Linked DNA regions of Homo sapiens: region 1 is linked to region 2. Evidence: fine-mapped expression QTL. Tissue or cell type: whole blood. Region 2 holds a variant in brackets; the other region holds the start of a gene. Each region is shown on its reference strand, or each on the opposite one.

What was found. PIP is the estimated chance that this variant, and not a neighbour inherited with it, causes the effect.
Region 1: ZNF256 starts here. The variant in region 2 is the best candidate, but not a certain one, in a credible set for the expression of ZNF256 in whole blood (TOPMed, PIP 0.66).

The regions. Positions count from the first base shown.
Region 1 is chr19:57,943,135-57,952,138 of GRCh38, reverse strand. It overlaps ZNF256 (zinc finger protein 256), which reads left to right and starts at 4,433. Exons shown (of 3, transcript NM_005773.3): 1 at 4,433-4,697; 2 at 8,079-8,205. The coding sequence starts at 4,665. RefSeq lists enhancers at 4,195-4,284, 4,355-4,454, 4,945-5,024.
Region 2 is chr3:101,538,323-101,547,326 of GRCh38, reverse strand. No RefSeq gene overlaps it. Among named protein-coding and RNA genes, the nearest start is that of TRMT10C, 19 kb to the left of the region's middle. The variant T/C (reference allele first, on the strand shown) is at 4,612.

The DNA of each region.
Region 1 (9,004 bases), not on the chromosome of region 2:
TGAAATTTCCTCCATGTCTCTGACAAAGATTTTTCACATCCTACTTTATGATAGTACATAAATAATAGAAAACAACATTTTGTTTTGTATTAGGAAAATAAACATGTATTGATTTGAGATTTGGTGGGTTTTCCCCCCAGTCGAAACTCAAAAATCCTGCAGATTTAGCAAATTTAGAAGGGATCCCTATTAATTGTGTGAAAGTTGATCATATGAATTGGGTCATTCTTGTCATACCCACCTAAAACAGAGTTGAAAGAGCTGTGGGAAAAAAAGCACTCAGGGCATATAACCCTGATCCAAAAATGTAATTCTCCAGAAGCCTGGCTGCTGAAACTCCCTGCTGTAACTTGAAACAAGTTTTATTTAATGGCTGCTGACAGGACACACTGCAACTCTAAAACTAGTTTTGTAACTGAACAGCCTGGCCTGAAAAAGTTTTTTTCCTTTTTCTCATTTTTCCCTAGTCTTGTGATATAACCTTGAACCTTACTGCAGAATCTTTTCTTCTCATTAGTCTTAAAATACAGCCTTGAAATGTACTTTCTTTGAAATACCATGTCCACCGCTTCTCACCATACACTCCCTTAGACCATGCACATTTGTCTAATTGTATGCTAGTATCTAATTATGTGCTTACTTAGAAGTTCCTGGGGATAATCTTGAGACAGACTTGGTAGGCATAGGGACCTATCTGCAAAATTCCAGAGATTACTTCAAGGCAGTTAGTCAACCACCAGGCCATTACTGAGATGCAGCTAGCCCACACTCCAGGTGGACCATGGCTTGAGACAGCCACCAGAACAAGACACGCAGACCTAGTACTCAGCACCCCTCCTGCACACCTCCCAGTCCAAGTTCACATCCTTGGACTCAAAAACTCCGTTTTGAGCGAAACTCCGTCTCAAAAAACAAACAAAAACCAAAACAAAAGAGTTCTGTGAGACCTTCACTTTTTTCACCATCCGATATTTCCCAAACACGATTCTGCCACCATTTTTGAATGACTACATAGTCATTATAATGGCAGCAGTGGCTGATCTGGAGGGGCCGCTGTGATGATGCCGGCTGCAAATGGGGAGGCACGGCCAGGGCTGCATGCTCCGTGGAGCCCACGGGGACTGGGAACAGGTGATCCCAGTGGGAGCCTCGAGCCATACCGAGTTGTCAGGACGGGAGCCCTGTGCTCCCAGGCGCAGCTGCAGCCACCTAGTCGTGGCTCCAGACAGGGCATCCCTGCACTCTTGGGGACCTGGGAAGCACCCTTTTCCCACAGGCCCAGAAGTGCCTGCTCCCACTCCCTGGCCTCTCCCCACTCTCAGCACCTGCTCCACGGCAGAGCAAAGTTGTGGACATGTCAAGATAGCCAAACCTGGGCGCTATCACAACCCAGCCAAATGTGTGTGCCCTCGGGGCAGTGACGACATGCCAGCCCCCCACCATCTCGATTTCCTCCAGAAACTGCTTTTGAGGCTGAAACTTTGGGCACCAAGAAGCATGGGAAGGAGGCCGGGTGGTGGGAGGGGGGCGGCTGAGAGTGGCTCGGGGCAGGCCTGCGGGCAACCTTCAGCATGGACAGCCTGGGCGTCATGGACAGCATGTTGATGGCCATGAAAGGCAGACAGGTTCCTACGTGGGAAGGGGTGGGTTTTCTGTGAAACCCCACCTTCAAGCCACGAATGGCCTGAAGCCTGGAGGCCACGCTGCCAGTTCCAGGTGGAGTCTGTGACCCAGAGAGAGAAATTCCTTGACGCCTTTCGGCCAATGGTATGGTGTTTTTCCCAGGCCCGCCCATGACTGCCCATGGGCCAATCAGCATGCACTTCCTACCACCCATGGACCAATGAGCACACACTTTCTCCATTCTGAGCCCATAAAAAACCTGTAGACTCAGCCAGACTCAGACATCGGAGACTATCTGTATGCAGGTGTGAGCTACTCCCTTCAGGTTTCCTGAGGGCTGTTGGGTTGTCCAATAAAACCCTTCTCTGCCTTGCTCACCCTCCAGTTGTCTGCATAACCTCATTCTTCCTGGACGTGGGATAAGAACTTGGGGGACAAGAACTTGGGACCTAACGAACAGCAGGAGAGAAAGGGGCTGTAACACATTCCTGGCTGAGTAGCCATGCTTCTGGGCTGCATGAGTGAAAAATGGCGACTCTTCTGGAGGCCCAGACTTTGGGATTCCCCGAGCCAGAGCTGTAACACTATAGCCCTCCTGCCCTCAGCCAGCACTGGGTGGCCGCCCCCCACGATGGGAAGCAGCAGCGAGCCAGAGCAGGGCAGCGGGACTGAAAGAGCTATATCACAAACAAGCTGAAAACACACCCCACCCAAAACACACCTCCCCGCTTGCCAGGCTGCAAGCAACGGGAAGGAGAGAAGAGCTGTGGCTCTTCCGGGAGCCCAGGCCTCGAGACTCCGGAGCCAGGGCTGTGACATGCTGCAACACCCTCTTTGGGGTTCTGCTGTTCTTGGTGTCTCCGAGCTTTCCGGCGCCACCATTTTTCCCTCGTCTAGATGCTGGTGCCTGCAGCAGAAGCCGCCTGCAGTATGTCTGGTCCAGTCGCAGACTTGCAAGGAGCCGGCGCCTGTGCCAGCGCCTGGAGCTGCCCGCCCCGCCGCAGCAGCCAGCGTGCCTGGCTGTGTGCACTGGCTGGACCCTTCACTTGCTCGCTCACACACCCCTTGCGGCTCCGCGCCTGGCTCGCCCTTGGTAGGTGTGGGATCCAGGTGCAGCCTGCTGGGCCGAGTGGGTGGAACAAGCCCAGCGGGTGTGAGCAAAACTCAAGCAGAGGCGCGACCACAGAGGTTTCTGGCTGGCGAAGCGACACCCATTATTAGTAGCTTTCTGTAATTTGTATTTTACAATTCTTTTTCTGATATCGTATCAATTTTTTATGCAGAACAGCCCTATAATAATGGGGGCAAAGGGCCGGGCACAGTGGCTCACGCCTGTAATCCCAGCACTTTGGGAGGCCGAGGTGGGTGGATCACCTGAGGTCAGGAGTTCGAGACCAGCCTGGCCAATATGGCGAAACTCCGTCTCTACTAAAAATACAAATACAAAAAAAAAAAAAAAAAAAAAAGATTAGCCGGGTACGGTGGCGGGCGCCTGTAATTCCAGCTACTTGGGAAGCTGAGGCAGGAGAATCGCTTGAACCCGGGAGACAGAGGTTGTGGTGAGCCGAGATCGCACCATTGCACTCCAGCCTGGGCAACAAGAGCGTAACTAATGGGGGCAAAGATAATCATTTCAGCGTTGAGAAGAGATCTTGAATTTAAGATACACCCTACATTTGGGATTCAGAGCACCCTTTGTTCCACCTGTTAATGCTCTAGCTAGCCATCATGCCTTTTCAAAATACCATTCCTTTTGTTGTTCTCTTTCTGAGCTTGATGTCAAATTATTAAAAAGAAGTGAATATAAAGGCATGGAGAAAGTGAGATTAGATTCATGCAAGTGTTGCTTAGTGAATTGGACACAATGTTTGACTACACAGGCACGAGAGGGACCCAGAGACAGGGATCTACTTATGTCCTGCTGCTGCAGGGTGCCTCCGCATCCCACCTTCATCCTCTTTGTCATGAACCTGTGTGGAGTGTTTTTTTTCTTGTCCCTAATCAAACATACAGAGACTGAGAAAACTGACTCCAGTGCTTGAGTGCATGCGTTTGAATTGCAACATAGTCTTTTTTTTTTTTTTTTTTTTTTTTTTTTTTTGAGACAGTGGCTCGCTCTTTCCCCCAGGCTGGAGTGCAGTGGCGCGATCTCGGCTCACTGCAAGCTCTGCCTCCCGGGTTCAAGCTATTTTCCTGCCTCAGCCTCCGGAGTAGCTGGGGACTACAGGCGCCCGCCACCACACCCAGCTAATTTTTCTTTTTTTTTTTTTTTTTGTGGTATTTTTTGTATTTTAGAGACGGGGTTTCGCTGAGTTAGCCAGGATGGTCTCGATCTCCTGACCTCGTGATCCGCCCGCCTCGACCTCCCAAAGTGCTGGAATTACAGGCGTGAGCCACCGCGCCCGGCCGCAACATAGTCATATTTATTTGCTTTCTCAACCAGTGGATATATTTTGTGACTGACTGACTGTATGTAATAATATGTGCATCTGGATATGTGCCTCTGGGAACACATGAAATGACACGTCTCCAAACAAACACTGGCAGACAGCAATCGGTAGAAACCTGGGTACGTCTCCTTTAAGAAAGAACGAAGCCTCGCCTCCGCCCCAACCTGGAGTGTCCATTTCCCAGCGCCCCCTACAGGGGTTTGGCCTTTACTTCCGGAAGGAGGTGGAGGCGACCCTCACTCTCCCGCCGTGCGCCTGTGGGAACATTACCCAGAATGGCCTGCGTTGGGCGACGGCGACCTTCAGCCAATGAGGCCTCCGAAAGGTGGTGTTTCCGTAAGCGCACGCGCGGTCGCGGCGGGACTTCCGTTGTCCTCCTTGTGGCGGTCGTTTTGGCATTTGTCTGGACTGATTACTTGGTAGAAAGCCCCGGAGCGCTGGGTCAGCATCATCCGTGACTGACTGAGAAGGCGCGAGAGGAGTCTTCCCCGCTGCACAGAGGCGTGGCTGAGGCTCGGCGGCGCCCAGGGTACCCAGGCCCGGCCCGGAATAAGGACATCCTCTCTGGCCCCGCTCCGCTCACAGAGTCAGATGGCGGCGGCCGAGCTGACGGCCCCGGCCCAGGTATGTGCCGCGTCCTCTGGGCCTTCCCCGCCCTCCCCACGCTAGTCCTAGCACCCCCGAGGGCGCTTGCTCGCGGCCCTGCTGCCCAGGACAGGACACGGGGGCTCGCCGGAGGGGCTCCCGTTTCCAACACCTGGTGTGCTAGGGAAGGGAGGGCGCGACTGGCAAGGAGCCCCTGATGAGAGGCGCCACTGAGCCCTGGGGCACAGAGGTGACACAGCCATTGCGAGGGCACCCGGCTCCAAGGCCAGGCATGGGGCTACGGGGTGGCTTGAGCCCATCTAATACCGCCATAGATGCTCTTCTCTGAGGCCTGGCTCTTTCTACGTTTCCCTTGGCTGTAAAGGGTTATGAAATCTACGCCAGGAAGGGGAGGGTTTCCCAGTCTCTCACTAGCCCTAACTCCCACCCACAGGTTCTCTGGGTTGTGGAGTGCCATTCCCCCAGCCCTTAGTTCTGAAGACCTTGGGTGAACCCCAAGCCCAGGGTCCTATGTCCATGTTAGCCGGTATATAGAGTTGTTCCAATTTCTGGCAGCCATGTGAACGGGTGTGGAAAGTTTTTCCAGAAAGGTACAAGATGTGCAAATGCTTAGGTGCAGTACGGAGCTGGGTGCATTTATGAAGCCACAAGTCTCCTTGCTTTCTGGTGGGAAGCAAAGAACAGGAGGATAGGCGTCAGGACTGCAGTGGCTGCCTGAGAAGTTGAGTGTGTTTTCAGGAGGTAATAGCAAGTTTGAATCAGAAAAAAGAGGTAATTTACCAAGGTCTTCACAGGCTTCATCTGTGTGCACAGTGGGGCACAAACTGGGGGGTTGAGGGAGGAGGAAGGAAAATCAGGGTAGACTAGTCCAAGTGAGGGTTACTGGCCCAGGATCGTGATTTAGGAGATGTGGTTAGATTCCGGATGTGTGGTTTCAAAAGGGACAACTAAATTACATAATGTAGGTGGTGAGGGAGTGAAACAGAGGGTTCAGAGAAGACTCCAGGGTTTTTGGTATTAGCAGCTGTAGGGAAAGAAGTTTCATCAACTAAGATGAACAAATTGGCAATAGGAGTAATATTCACTAGGGATATCAGGTTTGTTTATGCCATGCTAAGAGTCAGATCTTTCAGAGCCTACTAAATGGAGGCGTTAAGTGGGCAGATGAACGTGCCGGTCTTGAAATCTAGGGAGTGGTTCAGGGTGCAGATATTCAAGATGTGGCTGTTGTGCGCACCAAGGTTAGTGAGCTGTGGGTCACAGTTAGGCGGGGCAAGCTCCAGGTTTTGGTTGTAAAGCTGTTAGTGGGCCAAGACTGGGAGGATGATGATAGAGTAAGTGGTCATGAAGGCAAGGTATGTAAAAGACAGTGTAGTTTGGCAGTGGCCACGGCTCCCAAGAGAAGAATGGACATGAGATGGATGCAAACGCATAGGACACTCAGGCCAAAACTCGTGCTTATTCACCACTTTATGGGTATCCAGGATTTTGTGATAACTTGATGGGGCCTGGGTGTTTCATTCAGGCTGGAAGATTAAGTTAGTGTCATGTGGTCATTTGTGAGAGTCATTGTGTGTGAGATGAACGACCAGTGAGGCTGGGATTTAAATGAGCTTTAGGTGGATATATGACTCTCAAGGGGATGGTAAGTGCAGCACAGAAGTGGAATAGGGCCATGGTTATCTGTGATTCACCTGTGGTTCTGTGTGGCTATGTCTGAGGCAAGGAATACAGCCTGGCAGGGAGGCCTTCAAAGAAATTTTTGAGGCTGCTTCCACTAGTGTAAGCTGTGGGAAGTCTGGGATTTTGGATCCTGTTTATATCCACACTCTGGATGCTGCCTGCCAAGTTGCGGTATAAGGCCGGAAATTAAGGCCCAGTATGATATGTCGCCTTGACATCTGATGAAAACGATACAGCCTTAGATGGCCTGAGAACAAATTCCCCTTCCCACTTTGCTCCCATGAATAAGCTCTCTTAGCCAAATGAACCCTTCTTATCCATTCTTATCCAGGGAACCAGAACAGTTCCTGCTTATTACTTTGTAGTGGGTTTCAGTTCCCTATCAATTTTTTGAGTTATTCAAACAAGCCAGTCCCCTCCTCTGGGGACCAGTGGAGCTTCTCCATCTTGATGCTACAAAACTTACATTCTACAGCACCTGGTTGTTACTCTTTTCTGGAGTACTACCTCCGTATGGCCCTGTGTGGAGTGTGGTATTCTTTCACAGGCTATGAGTATTTGTCTTTAATTAATAAGCTGTTCAGCCAGGCGTGGTGGCTCACGCCTGTAATCCCAGCACTTTGGGAGGCCGAGGCGGGCAGCTCACAAGGTCAGGAGATCAAGACCATCCTGGCTAACACGGTGAAACCCCTTCTCTACTAAAAATATAAAAAATTAGCCAGGCGTGATGGCGGGTGCCTGTAGTCCCAGCTACTTGGGAGGCTAAGGTAGGAGAATGGCATGAACCCAGGAGGTGGAGCTTGCCCCACTGCACTCCAGCCTGGGCGACAGAGCAAGATTTCGTCTCAAAAAAAAAAAAAAAATTAATAAACTGTTGATCTCATTTGTCCAATGTCACGTGTCTTATATTTGGCTGTTGGTTATCCACTCTTTTTTTTTGTTCTTTGAGACGCAGTCTCGCTGTGTCACCACGCTGGAGTGCAGTGGCGTGATCTCGGCTCATTGCAACCTCCACCTCTCCACCTCCTGGGTTCTAGTGATTCTCCTGCCTCAGCCTCCTGAGTAGCTGGTACTACAGCCGTGTGCCACCACGCCTGGCTGATCTTTTGTATTTTTAGTAGAGATGGGGTTTCACCCTGTTAGCCAGGATGGTCTCCATCTCTTGACCTCGTGATCCGCCCACCTCGGCCTCCCAAAGTGCTGGGATTACAGGCATGAGCCACTGCACCCGGCCCAGGTTATCTACTCTTTCACTCAGGTAGCATGTGGGGAAGCCAGGATTTGCCTGTGGTATAGGACGTAGTGGTGGTCATGGTCATGTGGCAGTGGGATCTGGAGACCTGAGGTATGTGCAGTGTAATGAATGATATGCACTTGGAGAGGGAGTGTGCCTGATGGCCCCAGTGTCCTGATTGAGACTTACATGACCTTGGTCATATGAGAGGAATGCTTGTCAGGAAGGAGTGGTTGCCCTTATGCCACGCCCACAGCTTAGATACATGTATTTGTTCACCTGCCTCTTGTTACTGATGGCTGCAACCAGTGACCAAGAGCCCCATTAGGAGACAACAGCACCAGCTGACTGCTTTCTCCTCTGAGCTGGGGAGCTTGGAGAGCTTGGAAAGAGGATGAGCATGGGGTAAATGTGTGAGGGGAAGGATTATGGATCCTGAGAGGAGGAACCGTTTGTGGTTTCATGTGTCCCCATCCTGGCAGGGCATTGTGACCTTTGAGGACGTGGCTGTTTACTTCTCCTGGAAGGAGTGGGGTCTTCTTGATGAGGCTCAGAAATGCCTGTACCACGATGTGATGCTGGAGAACTTGACACTTACAACCTCCCTGGGTAAGGTCCTCACACCCACCTCTATGCCCCGAGCTAGCCTTTGCTCTTACCCTTTCCCCAGAGTCAGATGTGTCTTCACAAGAGGACTATTGACACAGCTTCCTGTTCCTGGGCAGGTGCTGCGGTTGGTAGGGCTAAGGTTGTATGTTGCCTGCTTTTCTCCTTGAGCAAGCAACACCTGCTTCCCTTTCATGTGGAAAGATTCAGAGTTAGGCTTCTTATAGTCGGCCTCATGGATCTCACCTCGTTTGCCTCTCCTGGCCAGGTGACATTGTCCAGATTCGAGGCTCCTCAAGGCCCAGGTTCTACTTCCTTCCTCTAGGGGACACTTCCTCATGCCTGCCTCTGCCAGCAATTATCATCACTGACATTGTCACCACTTATGTGGACTACGAGTGGCTCTTGCAAAATCCTCCTCTGAATTTCTCCTTGTATTATTATTTTTTTTCCTGTAGGCTATCATGTGCAGAGTCATTCTGGGCTGGTCTTGGGTGCTTGCATATTCCAAGTTCCGTGTTCTTGATTGTAGGGGTCAGATGGACAGGCCCTGTGGTTCTGAGGATGGCTGTGATTCCCCACAGCAAGATGGACTCAGAGGGAGCCTGGCCCTAGGGACTAACACCTAAAGGAGGACATTCTATAAGGGTTATGTTCACATCATACCAGAAACATATCCTGTTTGACTAATATTTTGGTGCTAATGACATTTGGGGCCAAACCTCATTACTGCCTTTTCTTTCCCATTCTTGATACTTAGCTTGCTTGTCAGCTGTCCACCTGGTTACTACGTCTCTTACTT
Region 2 (9,004 bases):
CAGACTTCTTTTACTATCATAATTTTGCAAAGGTTGTTGAAGGCCAGGCCTTTTTTGCTTTTTAAAACTTTAATGAAATGAAAGTCTTTGGACAACGACAGTCAGAGGCCAAACAAAAGAATTGTGCTGTACAGCAGGTACTCAAATAATATGGGTGTGGGTTTTCTCTTAGTACTCCAGTTTCCTTTCACAATCCAAAGATGTGCACATTAGGTTAATTGGCATGTGTACATTGTACCAATCAGAGTTAATTCAGGTGTGTGTGAGGGCACTGTGCAGTAGGATGATGTTCTGTTCAGGTCTGGTTTCTGCATTATGCCCTGAGCTGCTGGATAGACTCTGGCTATACCTGACCCTGAACTGGTGGAATAAATAGATTGGAAAATGAATGAAAGAGTTAATACAGATTATTGTAAAATAAAATTTGTAAATTATACAGTGATCATACAAAATGTATGACCATAAACAATGTGGTATGAAAGCGCTCAATGAGCCTGCCATGTTTGTGATTGTTATTGAACTGCATGGTGGGAGGAAGTGCTGTTTATGTCAGAGGCATTTGAACTAAAGCAACTCCATCTTTTTTTTTTTTTTTTTAAGACAGAGTTTTGCTTTTGTTGCCCAGGCTGGAGTGCAATGGCTCGATGTCAGCTCACCGCAACCTCTGCCTCCTGGGTTCAAGAGATTCTCCTGCCTCAGCCTCCAGAGTACCTGGGATTACAAGCATAGGCCACCATGCCTGGCTAATTTTTTTTGTATTTTTAGTAGAGACGGGGTTTCTCCATGTTGGTCAGGCTGGTCTCAAACTCCTGACCTCAGGTGATCCACCTGCCTCAGCCTCCCAAAGTGCTGGGATTACAGGCGTGAGCCACCATGCCTGGCCTGCAACTCCATCTTCTGTAGGGACTGGGTAAAATAAGGCTGAGACCTACTGGACTGCATTCCCAGGAGGTTAGGCATTCTTAGTCACAGGATGAGATAGGAGGTTGGCACAAGATACAGGTCACAAAGACATTGCTGGTAAAACAGCATGTGATAAAGAAGCCGACCAAAACCAAGATGGTGACCAAATTGACCTCTGATAATTCTCACTGTTCATTATATGCTAATTACAATGCATTAGGATGCTAAAAGACACTCGCATCAGCACCATGACAGTCTACAAATGCCATAGCAATGTTGGGAAGTTACCCTATATGGTCTAAAAAGGTGAGAAACGCTCAGTTCTGGGAATTGTCCTTTCCTGGAAAACTCATGAATAATCCACCCTATGTTTAGCATATAATAAAGAAATAACTATAAGTATTATCAGTTGAGCATTCCAAGCTGCTGCTCTGCCTATGCAGTAGCCATTATTTTGTTTCTTTACTTCTCTAATAAACTTGCTCTCAGTTTCTGGATTCGCTTCAAATTCTTTCTTGCATGAGATCCAATAACCCTCTCTTGGGGTCTGGTTTGGGACCCCTTTCCAGTAACCCCTTTCCAAAAACTTAACAGTTTTTGCTTTGCAAACGTTTATTTCTTGATTTAACCCAACACGCTTGTGACCTTCATCACTTACTGATTCACCAAAAGTTGGGCAATTATCTTGTTTTTATTAATCCTTTAAAAATGTATGTATAGCTCACATTTATTTCAGTGTTTAATATTAGATGTGTTTTTTCTCTTTATTTAGAAGTTTTGTAATGTTTTCGTTACTGGAAATATGCCTTAGGAACTTAACTCTTGTTTATATCAATTAGCCTAAGGTAAATTTGGTTTTATTATGCATTATTTAGCTTAAAGTCACAGCTTCAATAACCTATTGAGGAAAGAAAAATAGCTCAGAGCAGTCTCAGTTATGTGAGGTTTGCAAAATTTTTAAGCCCAGAGAAACATGAGTATGGGACTTTGGTCACATATACCCCCATTCTCATTGCTCCCCAACCCAGGCCCAGGGGTGTTTTTTTTTTTTGTTTTTTTTTTTTGTGACCGAGTCTTGCTCTGTCGCCCAGGCTGGAGTGCAGTGGTGTGATCTCAGATCACTGCAACCTCCGCCTCCTGGGTTCAAGCAATTCTCCTGCCTCAGCCTCCTGAGTAGCTGGGATTACAGGCGCCTGCCACCACGCCCAGTAATTTTTGTACTTTTAGTAGAGACAGGGTTTCACCATGTTGGTCAGACTGGTCTTGAACCCCTGACCTCGTGATCCACCCATCTTGGCCCCCCAAAGTGCTAGGATTACAGATGTGAGCCACCGTGCCCAGCTGCCAAGGGGTAATTGTTTAAAAGCATTTGTTCTCATGACTAGGTGCCTCACTTATTATTTTCATGCTCCTGCAATTTGAGATACAAAGAACAATGTATAGACGATCAATAGCATATGTTATTTTGATGTAAATTCTTGGTAAAAAATGTATGAACTGCCTCTTCCCTTTTGCTTTAAAAAGCCACTTGTAACTGCTGCTAATCAGAGTGTACATTTAGTACAACTTGAATCTATGATCCTGGGTAGCCATCCTTAAGCTTTGAGATCAGATAAACTATATTTAATCATATTTTCTGAATCTCATTATTTTAAGGTTGACACTATCTATGAAGTTAAATGAGGACTTACTGTGGTTTAATGCTTTGCAAAATTCATTGCTCTGTAATACCTTGGCTGCTTCCTCCTCTCTCTGCCTGAAGGTGGTGTCTTCTATTACCTGATTGCTCCAGGACTTAGGAAATGGTATATTATTGTTGGGAAAATACAATTAAAAGCAAAATCTTCCCAGCATTTTGGGAGGCCAAGGCAGGAGGATCACTAGAGCCCAGGAGTTCAAGACCAGCCTGGGCAACATAGTGAGACCCTGTCTCTCTTAAAAAAAAAAATCTCCCAACCCCAAAATCCTCTCCACAATGGTAGTAGAGATAGAAAACAGTTTCATTATTGAATGAGCATTAAACCACAATGTGATAGACATCATAGGCGACTCATTAAGAGATTGAAAAGACACAAGGAATCTCACCCCTTTATACTGACAAGCAGATGCAACCCATTACATGCATGTTTTCAAGAAAAACAAAAATAGGCTTCAAGTAAGAAAACTTGACAGCATATTTTGTCACATATAGTTCATCTTAAGTTTAGCATAATTGTTAGGAGGACCACCAGTGTTAGCTAATTGGTTTTATCCAAGTGAGAAGAAGCAAACTCCCTAAATCTTTTCATAAGGATATAGTTTTGAAGATTGGGCCAAGGCACCCTGCCCACCAAAATTCAGTTCTTACCCTCCCAGAAGAACTATGAGAGCTGTCTCCCTTGAATACGCATTTTGAAACATGACTCCCAGGTCCTAAATTGTGAGACTGAGAAGAGGTTTATTTAGCCATTATAAAGATGTAACATACATTTGAAAAGGACAGAGGATTAAATTCTGAAAGAAAAAGGAGAGGTCAGAGCTGTGCCTTCCCTTATTTCCACAGAAAAAAAAATTAAGTCTTTTACTTTTTTTTTTTTTTTTTTGAGTTAGAGTCTCACTCTGTCACCCAGGCTGGAGTGCAGTTGTGCAACCTCTGCTCACTGCAACCTTCACCTCCTGGGTTCAAGCAATTGTTGTGCCTCCGCCTCCTGAGTAGCTTGGATTACAGGCCCACACCACCATGCCCAGATAAATTTTGTATTTTTAGTAGAGATGGAGTTTCACCATGTTGGCCAGGCTGGTATCGAACTCCTGATCTCAGATGATCCGCCGGCCTCAGCCTCCAAAAGTGCTGGGATTACAGGTGTGAGCCACCATGCCCAGCCTGGGGCAATTATTTAAAAGGCATTTTATGCCTGACTAGCTACCTAAGCCATTATCTTCATGTTCCTAGAATTTGTGATACAAAGAAAAATGTATAGACAATCAGTAGTTTATTTTAATGTAAATACTTGCTAAATAATTTAGGAACTGACTCTTCTTTTCTGCTTTAAAAACCCACTGTTACTACTGCTAATTGAAGTGTATATTCAGGGCAACTTGAATGTATGCTCCTGGGTGGCCATCCTCAATCTTTGAGCTCTAGTAAACTCTATAGGTAATCATACTTTCTAAATCTTTTTATTTAAGGTTGACACATTATTGTAAAACAACAGGAAGATTGGTCTTATGAAATGCACCACTTCCTTTACTACAGGAGGAAAAGATAAATATTTCAGTTTGAGTCTTTGGGTGAACAAAACAGTGGTTTAGCTAACAACCTCCTTTTGTTGCTTTTCTCAGGGGTGGAACTATGGGGCTGATAATATCCATCATAACTCACACTTCATGTAAGGTAGATTCAACTTTCTCTTTTTTTTTTTTTTTTTTTTTTTGAGATGGAGTTTTGCTCTTGTTGCCCAGGCTGGAGTGCAATGGCATGATCTTGGCTCACCCCACAACCTCTGCCTCCCGGGTTCAAGTGATTCTCCTGCCTCAGCCTCCTGAGTAGGTGGGATTACAGGCCTGTGCCACCATGCCTGGCTAATTTTGTATTTTCAATTGAGATGGGGTTTCTCCATGTTGGTCAGGTTGGTCTCAAACTCCAACCTCAGGTGATCTGCCTGCCTCAGCCTCCCAAAGTGCTGGGATTACAGGCATGAGGCACTGTGCCTAGCCAGATCTAACTTT[T/C]TTAATGTAAACCAAAAATAAAATTATAAGCCCCCAACTGACTGATGGACCCTCCTCTTGGCCAAGGGCATTCCAAAATTAATCTGAAAAACTAGTTCAGGCCATGATGGGAAGTGGAGGGTGGTAAGTGTTAGACATGCCTCACACATGACCAACATTAACATAAACATAGAGACCTTAAGACTGATAGAACAGACTCCAAGTCTGATAAGAAACATCTATAATCTATTCTCTCTGAAGCCTGATACCTGGAGGCCTTATCTGCATGATGAAACCTTGGTCTCTACAACCCCTTATCATAACCCAGACATTTCTTTCTATTGATTCCAGGTCTTTAGATAATAACTCTTTAAACCAATTGCCAATCAGAAAATCTTTAAATTTCTAAAATGTATGACCTGGAAGATACCCACCCCCAAACCCCACTCCCAGTTGTCCCACCTTTCTGGACCAAACCAATGTACATCTTACATGTATTGATTAATGTCCTATGTCTCCCTAAAAGGTATAAAATCAAGTTGTAGCTCAAGTTGTAGGGCACATGTTCTCAGGACCTCCCAAGGGCTGTGTCACAGACCAACGGTCACTCGTATTTGTTTGTTTGTTTTTGAGAAAGGGTCTTGCTCTGTCACCCAGGCTGGAGAGCAGTGGTGTGATCTTGGCTCACTGCAGCTTCAACTTCTTGAGCTCAAGTGATCCTCCCTGCTCAGCCACCTGAGTAACTAGGACTACATGCATGCACCACCATGCCAAGCTAATTTTGCTTATTTTTTTTTAGAGATGATATCTGACTATGTTGCCCAGGCTGGTCTCAAACTCCTGCACTCAAGCTATCCTCCCATCTAGGCCTTCTAAAGTGCTGAGATTATAGGCATGAGACACCATGCCTGGCCAGTCACTTATATTTGTCTCAGAATAAATATCTTCAAATATTTGAGACTTATTTGACTCTTTTCTTTTTTTTTTTTCTTTCCGAGATGGAGTCTTGCTCTTTCACCCAGGCTGGAGTGCAGTGGCACGGTCTCGGCTCACTGCAACCTCCATCTCCTGGGTTCAAGCAATTCTCCTACCTCAGCTTCCCTAGTAGCTGGGATTACAGGCGTGCACTACCACGCCCAGCTAATTTTTGTATTTTTAGTAGAGATGGGGTTTCACCATGTTGGCCAGGCTGATCTCAAACTCCTGACTTCAAGTGTCTGCCCGCCTCGGCCACCCAAAGTGCTGGGATTACAGGCGTGAGCCACTGCACTTGGCCTATTTGACTCTTTTCATCAATATAACTGACAAGGATTGTTTCCTTGAACTAACTTTACTCAAGTTCCCAAAACTTCTCCTGAGCCCATCTGTGCACTTCTTTGTAAAATCCAATTTTAGGAATGTAGGCTTGCAGTTCCAAGATGGCCAAATAGGAACAGCTCCAGTCTACAGCTCCCAGCATGAGCGATGCAGAAGATGGGTGATTTCTGCATTTCCAACTGAGGTACCGGGTTCATCTCACTGGGGCTTGTTGGACAGTGGGTGCAGGACAGTTGGTGCAGCCCACCGAGTGTGAGCCAAAGCAGGGTGAGGCATCGCCTCACCCGGGAATTGCAAGGGGTCAGGGAATTCCCTTTCCTAGCCAAGGGAAGGGGTGACAGATAGCACCTTGAAAATCGGGTCACTCCCACCCCAATACTGCGCTTTTCCAATGGTCTTAGCAAACGGCACACCAGGAGATTATATCCCACAACTGGCTTGGAGGGTGCCACGCCCATGGAGCCTCGCTCATTGCTAGCACAGCAGTCTGAGATTGAACTGCAAGGCAGTAGCGAGGCTGGGGGAGGGGCGCCCGCCATTGCTGAGGCTTGAGTAGGTAAACAAAGTGGCCAGGAAGCTCAAACTCGGTGGAGCCCACCACAGCTCAAGGAGGCCTGCCTGCCTCTGTAGACTCCACCTCTGGGGGCAGGGCATAGCTGAACAAAAGGCATCAGAAACTTTTGCAGACTTAAATGTCCCTGTCTGACAGCTTTGAAGAGAGTAGTGGTTCTCCCAGCACGGAGTTTGAGATCTGAGAATGGACAGACTGCCTCCTCAAGTGGGTCCCTGACTCCCGAGTAGCCTAACTGGGAGGCACCTCCCATTAGGGGCCGACTAACACCTCACACAGTCGGGTGCCCTCTGAGACGAAGCTTCCAGATGAATGATCAGGCAGCAACATTTGCTGTTCTGCAGCCTCCACTGCTGATGCCCAGGCAAACAGGGTCTGGAGTGGACCTCCAGCAAAGTCCAACACACCTGCAGCTGAGGGTCCTGACTGTTAGAAGGAAAACTAACAAACAGAAAGGACATCCACACCAAAACCCCATCTGTACGTCACCATCATCAAAGACCAAAGGTAGATAAAACCACAAAGATGGGGAGAAACCAGAGCAGAAAAGCTGAAAATTCTAAAAATCTGAATGTCTCTTCTCCTCCAAAGGAATGCAGCTCCTTGCCAGCAACGGAACAAAGCTGGATGGAGAATGACTTTGATGAGTTGAGAAGAAGAAGGCTTCAGATGATCAAACTTCTCCGAGCTAAAGGAAGATGTTCGAACCCATCACAAAGAAGCTAAAAACCTTGAAAAAAGATTAGATGAACGGCTAACTAGAAAAACCAGTGTAGAGAAGTCCTTAAATGACCTGATGGAAATGAAAACCATGGCACGAGAACTACGAGATGCATGCACAAGCTTCAGTAGCCAATTCGATCAACTGGAAGAAAGGGTATCAGTGATTGAAGATCAAATGAATGAAATGAAGTTAGAAGAGAAGTTTAGAGAAAAAAGAGTAAAAAGAAATGAACGAAGCCTCCAAGAAATATGGGACTATGTGAAAAGACCAAAGCTACATCTGATTGGTGTACCTGAAAGTGACGGGGAAAATGAAGCCAAGTCGGAAAACACTCTTCAGGATATTATCCAGGAGAACTTCCCCAACCTAGCAAGGCAGGCCAACATTCAAATTCAGGAAATACAGAAAACACCACAAAGATACTCCTCGAGAAGAGCAACTCCAAGACACATAATTGTCAGATTCACTAAAGTTGAAATGAAGGAAAAAATGTTAAGGGCACCCAGAGAGAAAGGTCGGGTTACCCACAAAGGGAAGCCCATCAGACTAACAGCGGATCTCTCAGCAGAAACTCTACAAGCCAGAAGAGAGTGGAGGCCAATATTCAACACTCTTAAAGAAAAGAATTTTCAACCCAGAATTTCATATCCAGCCAAACTAAGCTTCATAAGTGAAGGAGAAATAAAATCCTTTACAGACAAGCAAATGCTGAGAGATTTTGTCACCACCAGGCCTGCCCTAAAAGAGCTCCTGAAGGAAGCACTAAACATGGAAAGGAACAACTGGTGCCAGGAACAAATGCAAAAACATGCCAAATTGTAAAGACCATCGAGAATAGGAAGAAACTGCATCAACTAACGGGCAAGATAACCCGCTAACATCATAATGACAGGATCAAATTCACACATAACAATATTAACCTTAAATGTAAATGGGCTAAATGCTCCAATTAAAAGACATACACTGGCAAATTGGATAAAGAGTCAAGACCCATCAGTGTGCTGTATACAGGAGACCCATCTCACCTGCAGAGGCTCAAAATAAAGGGATGGAGGAAGATCTACAAAACAAATGGAAAACAAAAAAAAGCAGGGGTTACAATCCTAGTCTCTGATAAAACAGACTTTAAACCAACAAAGATCAAGAGACAAAGAAGGCCATTACATAATAGTAAGGGGATCAAATCAACAAGAGGAGCTAACTATCCTAAATATATATGCTCCCAATACAGGAACACCCAGATTCATAAAACAAGTCCTTAGAGACCTACAAAGAGACTTAGACTCCCACATGATAATAAAGGGAGACTTTAACACCCCACTGTCAACATTAGACAGATCAACGAGACAGAAAGTTAACAAGGATATCCAGGAATTGAACTCAGCTCTGCACCAAGCAGACCTAATAGATATCTACAGAACTCTCCATCCCAAATCAAAAGAAGATACAGTCTTCTCAGCACCACATCACACTTATTCCAAAATTGACCACATAGTTGGAAGTAACGCACTCCTCAGCAAATGTAAAAGAACAGAAATTATAACAAACTGTCTCTCAGACCACAGTGCCATCAAACTAGAACTCAGGATTAAGAAACTCACTCAAAACTGCTCAACTACATGGAAACTGAACAACCTGCTCCTGAATGACTACTGGGTACATAACAAAATGAAGGCAGAAATAAAGATGTTCTTTGAAACCAATGAGAACAAAGACACAACATACCAGAATCTCTGGGAAACATTTAAAGCAGTGTGTAGAGGGAAATTTATAGCACTAAATGCCCACAAGAGAAAGCAGGA